Linked DNA regions of Homo sapiens. The protein of the gene in region 1 purifies or fractionates together with the protein of each later gene. This does not show direct contact. Each region holds a gene or a part of one and is shown in the gene's direction. Other genes may lie near its edges.

Region 1 (3,649 bases):
ATCTGCCCACCTCGGCCTCCGAAAGTGCTGGGATTACTGGCGTAAGCCACCGTGCTTGGCTTTTTTTTTGAGTCTTGGCTTTGGGTTTTGATTTGTTTTCCTGAGTAAGGAGTGCAAAGCCCCCACACGAGCTCCTGCTTCTTGGCTTCCTGAGAAGGAGCCCTTTCTCACTCTTTCTTCCCAGCTTTTCCCCAGTGACACACTCAGGGTCTTCCTAGGGTGCCCCACCCACTTCCTAGAGGCTCCATTCACACTGCCAGAGTGTGTGCCACCAGATTCCCACTAGAGAATTCAAAAGCACTGTGCACAGGCAGGAGGTACTACAAATAATCCTGACCCAAAAGTAGGAGCGAGAAGGGGCTTCTTGCTCCTGGGGTGAGTGGGTGGATGCCCATTCTGTTGAAGGGCCACCCAGGAGGAAGAAGGTGGAAGGCCCCATCTCCTTCCCTCCTGCATTCTCCAGGAAAGCTCCGGAAGTCCCACATCCCTGGAGTGAGCATCTGGCAGCTGGTGGAGGAGATCCCTGAAGGCTGCAGCACGCCGGACTTTGAGCAGAAGCCCGTCACCTCGGCTCTGCCAGAGGGTGAGCCCAGAGGGGAGCTGCGGAGGGGAGGCAAGATTCTTGCTCTCCTACCTCCCAGGGGAGAGGGCTGGGGCACCAACCTTCCTGGGGACCCAGGCCCTATATCCATCACTAGGCCATAGCCCATCTCCCTCCTATCCTTGAGGGGGTATGTGCTTACCTGGAACCCTAGAAGTGACAAGAGGCCTGGGGAAAAGAGTGGATAAAGAGAGTGAAGAGACACCATGCTATTCTGGTGTGAGAAATATCTGGGGGGCAGGGATGGAAAAATGCTAAACTGGGGAGCAGGGAGAGGTTGTGGTGTTTCCTGGTCCCTGTCTCCTCACCTCAAAGCCACTGCTGCAGAGAGGCACTGTTAAAACAGTTAATTTGACTCTTCCCAATCCTCGCCTCCAGGCAGCAGCACCTGCTGTGGCTCACAGGCTGGGCTCAGGAAGGCCCTTCTAGAAGGCCACATAAGAAGGTGTCCAAGAAAGTGGTGGGAACAAAGGCTTATTGGGGAAAAAGTGGGAATTGGTGTTCTTTCCCCAACACACACCCTGCAATAAATTTTAGTTCATAGCATCCTGGTAATAAGAAAAAGAATGGTATTTTATTTTTCTAAATCTGGAACAAGGTAATGAGAAATTGGGAAGGGCCCTTGGGCCTTTGGTCTATATTGCTGTCTACTGAGATGTTCCTGGTGGGAGGCTGAGGGATTCCTTGAGGGCGGGCAGTTCCCAGGCCTCCATGACAGGCATGGAGCATGGGGTCTTTTCTGAGGCTGAAGCCTGTGTCTCAGCACCGGATCCTTCGGGCACCAAATAGTCACTCCTTCTCCTAGTTGTGATTCCTCCTCCCCCTAGAGAGTAGGAAGGGAAGCCAGAAAATCTCTTCTTTTTTTTTTTTCTTTTTTTGAGATGGAGTCTCGCTCTGTTGCCCAGGCTGGAGTGCAGTGGCGCAATCTCTGATCACTACAACATCTGCCTCTGGGGTTCAAGTGATTCTCCTGCCTCAGCCTCCCAAGTAGCTGGGATTACAGGCACATGCCACCAAGCCTGGCTACTTTTTGTATTTTTAATAGAGATGGGGTTTCACCATGTTGGCCAGGCTGGTCTCGAACTCCTGATCTCAGGTGATACGACTGCCTTGGCCTCCCAAAGTGCTGGGATTACATGCGTGAGCCCCTGCGCCTGCCCGGAACTCACAAAATCTCATTCCCTTCCTAGTCTTGGCAGAGCCTTCAGACTCCTTGCTCACCCACTCTCAAAGAAAAGCCCCTGTCCCCTAAAGCCCTGCTGGCCTCCCCTTTCACCAGGGCCAGTCCACCTGTCTCTTTCCCTCAAGCAGCCCAAGCTTCTGCAATATAGAAAGAGGAAGCACTGCCTTCTGGGTGCCTGGAATCTGCTGCTTTCCACCTGCGTATTCTGAGTCCTGAGTCAAGGGGACCAAGGCCTGGCATCCTTTTTGGAAGGGGCAGTTGAAATACCTAGATGAGGAAGACGATATAAATTAAAATTTAAATAAAGTATACAGTCACCCTCTCCCAACTTGTCAGTCTCCCTACTCGTCTCTTCCTGCTGCAGGGAAAAATGCTGTCTTTCGGGCTGTGGTCTGTGGGGAGCCCAGGCCCGAGGTGCGTTGGCAGAACTCCAAAGGTGACCTCAGTGATTCCAGCAAGTACAAGATCTCCTCCAGCCCTGGCAGCAAGGAGCACGTGCTGCAGGTAAGAACCGTAGCTCTTCCCCTGACCAGGGTCTACTCGTCTTTTCCCATCCCCTTGAAGGTCTCTTTGGCAGCCTCCAATCCCTAGAGGAGTAAGACATACTCCTCGTTGAGGTTGAATCCATTCAACTCCATCTCGTGACTCAAAGTTGCCTGAGCCAAGAATGGATCTGGCAGGCTTGCAGATACCTCTGCTGATAACCTGGGAGGTGGTGTAGACTGGAGCTTAAGAGCTCAAGCTCTGAAGTCAGACTGCTGGAGTTACAATCCCAGGCCCACCACCTTGGCTTTAGAAAGTCATTTTACTCTTTTTACCTCTGTCTCCTCATTTGTAAAAATGGGATAATAATAGTACCTACTTTAAGGAGTTGTTATGAGTTGTTGTTGAGATGGATCTCACTCTGTCGCCCAGGCTGGAGTGCAATGGCGTGATCTTGGTTCTCTGCAACCTCCACCTCCCAGGTTCAAGCGATTCTCCTGCTTCAGCCTCCCAAGTAGCTGAGATTACAGGCATGCGCCATCACGCCCGACTAATTTTTGTATTTTTAGTAGAGTTGGGGTTTCACCATGTTGGCCAGGCTAGTCTTGAACTCCTGACCAACAATGATCCATCCGCCTCGGCATCCCAAAGTGCTGGGATTACAGACATGAGCCACTGCGCCTGGCCAGGAGTTGTTATGAGGATGAAAGTTTTATGTAAAGTGTCTAGCTAGTGCCTGGCCTATAGTGAGTACTCAATCAATCTTGGCTAATCTGAGCAATATTATAAATACTAACCATGGGATACCTACTATGTGCCAGGCCCTACTATGTCCCAGGGGCTAAATATTTGACATAGATTATATATTTAATTCTAATTATTCACCACTTTTTTGAGGTATTATATTCCCATCTTACAAATGAAGAAACTGAAGTTGAGAGAAGTTAGGTAACTTGCCCAAGGTCCCACAGCTAGTAATACAGGACAGAGACTGTTTTCAGGCCCAGATCCATCTGACCCCAAAAAGCACACTCTTTCTACTTCGCTACATTGCCTCTGATGGCAAAGAATTGATACATCCACCCTCTGTCCCAAACCAGGTTTCTGTTTTGGGGTCTGTCTTTCCTGATAAAGACTGTGAGCTCCATGAGGACAAGGACCATGTCTTACTCACTTTATACCCCCAACACATAGCCGTGTCTAGTAAATGGAGGAAGGGGATGTGGTAGCCCTGTTCCTCTGCCCTTGGCCTCTCTGCAGATCAACAAGCTGACAGGCGAGGACACGGATCTGTACCGCTGCACAGCAGTAAATGCGTACGGAGAGGCCGCTTGCTCAGTGAGACTCACTGTCATCGAAGGTGGGCTTTTCCCTGAGTTTGT
Region 2 (3,649 bases), on another chromosome or scaffold:
GGCCAAGCCCAGAAGTGGTCCGCAAGATGGGAGACAAGGTGGAGGCCCGGGCCATCGCCATTGCTGCGGGTGAATATAACGGGCAAGCAAGGGGTGGCCCCGCAGCTCCTGGAGAGGGTCCAGCAGGGAGGGGTGGCAGGGATTCCCGCCTGTTACAGAGACTCCCCCACACCTTTCTCCCAACAGGTGTTCCCGTTGTCCCTGGCACAGATGCCCCCATCACGTCCCTGCATGAGGCCCACGAGTTCTCCAACACCTACGGCTTCCCCATCATCTTCAAGGCGGCCTATGGGGGTGGAGGGCGTGGCATGAGGGTGGTGCACAGCTACGAGGTGAGTGAAGATGCCCAGGGCTGGGAGCAGGGCAGGGCAGCCTGCCGTGGGGGCAGGGGCGGACCACTCAAGGGATCTGGAAAGTGGGTGGGGTTCATGGCAGGGGAGAGGTAGCGCTGTGGGGTCTGAGGTCTGGCTGGCCCCTGCCCGCCCTCGCAGGAGCTGGAGGAGAATTACACCCGGGCCTACTCAGAGGCTCTGGCCGCCTTTGGGAATGGGGCGCTGTTTGTGGAGAAGTTCATCGAGAAGCCACGGCACATCGAGGTGCAGATCTTGGGTGAGTGGTCCTGACGCCCCGCCTGGGGCAGCTGGAGGCGGGAGCTGAGAGGCCCAGTCCTGGTGCCGTCACAGTGGCTGGCCTTGGGGACAGCCCTGGGGCCTGTCGGGCGCTTTTCCAGAGGACTCTGGAAAGTGGGCTCTAGGGGCCGAGCTGGCAGTTGGTCCTCACAGCCTTGGTGATGCTGGTGTCTCTCCTGGCAGCCTCTGTACCGCTGGCAGCCGGCACTGACTGGCGACAGTGGTTATGTGGGGGTGATGGGGCATTTAGGAGGCGTGTAGATTCCAGTAAAAGCTAAGCCCAGTTTACCTCCCTCCCCAGGGGACCAGTATGGGAACATCCTGCACCTGTACGAGCGAGACTGCTCCATCCAGCGGCGGCACCAGAAGGTGGTCGAGATTGCCCCCGCCGCCCACCTGGACCCGCAGCTTCGGACTCGGCTCACCAGCGACTCTGTGAAACTCGCTAAACAGGTGAAGGGTGGGCTTCCCGTGTTGGGACAGGAGCCTGTGCTCACAGGCCGGCAGGCCTCACAGTGGGGCGCTGGTTGGGGAAGGGGACCCTGAGTCCCCTTCTGGGGACTGGGGATGGGGAGAAGAGGGTGAAGGACTCTCCTGGGGGCCAGAAGTGGGTTTGTGGCATCCTTCCCATGTGCAGTTGAGGCACCTGGCCCAGAGGCCAAGCTTAGAGTCCAGGATGGCTGAGAAGAGGGAGGGAAGGAGCCCCAGCCGCCTCCTCAGCCCTGCTGCTACACAGACCTGGCTTCTCTGTGGCATCAGCTCATCCCTGTCATCAGGAGAATGAGATTCCGTGGATTCTGTCAAGATTGAGGACCATTATGAAGGCAGTCCTCCCTCATGTGCTTCTGTCTCCTACATCATGTTTATTATGATCTGTTTCCTTGCTCTGCACCCTCTGCCCATCTCTGCTTTTCTGGGACCTCTGGTCGGGGGGTCCTGGGCTGTGGAGGAGGCTGAGGTGGCAAGCTATCTCCCCACAGTGACCTGCCCCAGGACTGGCCTGGAGAGCACCTGCTGTGGCCAGGTGTGCAGCGGGGTCCTGCCCCCTCTTCTTCCCTGGCCTATAGGCAGCAGAGGATGCGTCACCTCCCCATGCCGAAGGCCGGGGTGTGCACTCTGCAGCAAGGCCTCAGCCACAGCTAATGCGAGGCATCGACCAGGGTCGCGTTTAAGTCAGGTCTTATTTACTGGCTTATACTATTTCACATTCCAGAACAGGTTTAAGGGAGGTGATTCAGTCTGGTTTATCGTTTTGGTGAGACCAAAAGTGAAACTGGAATTAGGGCTGAAATTTGAGTTAGAGTCATTATCTGTTGGTACCTCTCAAATGAATTTCTTTGGGTGGTGGTGGCCAGAGGTGACTGCGCAGTAGACTAGAAGGGGACTTTCTGAAAACACCTCCAAGCAGAAGCAGCGGCTGGGAGAGGCCTGGGTCTCCGTGTCTGGGTGGATGACACAGCCTTGGCGGGCAAGCCCAGGAGGCAGCAGGGCAAGGTGCCGAGCCTGGGATGGGTGGGGGCTTCTGCCCATGTCTCGTCCCAGATAAGCTGGGTGCAGCCATCTGTGGCTCCGGGAACCCTGGAGCCTAGTGGACTACTTGGGGGACGTGTCCAGGCAGGAGCATGACCTGGGCCCTGGGGTCTGTCTGCCATCTGTGGGGGCAGGGTTTGCCACAGGCCATTCTTTTACGGAACCAACCCAATGGGTGGGACGGAATCCCTGTCCTGAGTCCAGTGAGTTTGCCCAGGCCCTGCCTGTGCCCTCCCCTGCTCACGTGGCCGCCCCCACAGGTGGGCTACGAGAACGCAGGCACCGTGGAGTTCCTGGTGGACAGGCACGGCAAGCACTACTTCATCGAGGTCAACTCCCGCCTGCAGGTGGAGCACACGGTCACAGAGGAGATCACCGAGTGAGTGTGGGCGGGCAGGCGGGGCGGGAGGCGCGGCTTCTAGGATTTGCATAAAGTACAGGCGAAGTGGCTCCTGGGGCCAGCCAGGGGGCTTGCTCACTCCCCACATTGGTGGAGAGCAATGGGGATCCAGGTACTTAGTGTTTTAAAAGTCATTATTCTAAAAGCATTACGTGGTTATTATAAAAATCAGCACAAAGGAGCAAATAAAAATGACTGACAGCCCTCCTCTCTGTCAGGACGCTGCCGATTGCTCAGGCCCAGGTGCTCCCATCTGTCAGAGGAGTAAAGCAAGGCTCAGAGACATTTGGAGAGTTGCTCGGGGTCACACAGCTGGCGCTGGAACCCAGGCATCTCCGGCTGTCTTTGGTTTGCTCCTTTCCCGGTTTACCTGTTTTACTAGAGACATAGTTTGATGCAATAGAGATGTTTTATATAGAATTTTTATTCTACTTTTCAAATTATTTAATATTTGTTGAAGGCATTTCCCCAGGCCATAATTCTGTCTGAATACTTTTAGTGGCTGCGTACTATTCCGTCTTGTGTGTATTTCTTAACTTACATAGTCCTCGATTGTTAGGCAATTAGTTTGTGTGTCTGGCTTTGGTGGTTATTAAGCGTGTCACTTATCATCTGTGTGCCTGAATGTTTGGCTTCAGCTCTGAAGAGTTCTGAGGGTAAACCCTTCAACAGGATTATCTGATTGAAGGATAAGTAGCATCCCTCGGAACAGCCCTCTAGAGAGGTGGCACTAGCGTGCTCCCTGCAGGCACTGAGGATGACATTTTCAAAATCCGCCTGGTTTCTAAATGACAGTCATGATGGCCCTCACCCTTCAAGGTCTCTACTATGAGCCATGTAATTTCTTGACGCTGCTTTGGGCCAGCCCATCTCACTGTGGAGCATCCCTGACCCCAGTTCTGCCCCCAGCCCCAACCCCACCTGAGACTGAGGATGCTGTCGGGGTGGCTGCTGTGGCTCGCCGGGGGCATGGAGGCCCCTCCCTCCCCTTAGGAGAAGCTTAGAGACAAGGCCAACACTTTGGCCGAGTGAGACTCTTCCCCTCAAGCTGCTGTGAACTCCTCGGTCTTGGGTCTGCTTAGAGCGTCCT

The links. The genes of interacting proteins can lie anywhere in the genome.
Region 2: the proteins of IGFN1 (region 1) and PC purify together in Homo sapiens (affinity purification with mass spectrometry; one large-scale study listed by BioGRID and IntAct). This does not show direct contact.

Annotation. Positions count from the first base shown.
Region 1 is NC_000001.11:201,193,691-201,197,339, forward strand, and holds part of IGFN1 (immunoglobulin-like and fibronectin type III domain-containing protein 1), read left to right. Parts: intron 1-463; coding exon 464-583; intron 584-2,148; coding exon 2,149-2,288; intron 2,289-3,527; coding exon 3,528-3,627; intron 3,628-3,649.
Region 2 is NC_000011.10:66,867,735-66,871,383, reverse strand, and holds part of PC (pyruvate carboxylase, mitochondrial precursor), read left to right. Parts: coding exon 1-69; intron 70-186; coding exon 187-332; intron 333-491; coding exon 492-609; intron 610-930; coding exon 931-1,082; intron 1,083-2,419; coding exon 2,420-2,538; intron 2,539-3,649. UniProt on the Homo sapiens protein: Pyruvate carboxylase catalyzes a 2-step reaction, involving the ATP-dependent carboxylation of the covalently attached biotin in the first step and the transfer of the carboxyl group to pyruvate in the second.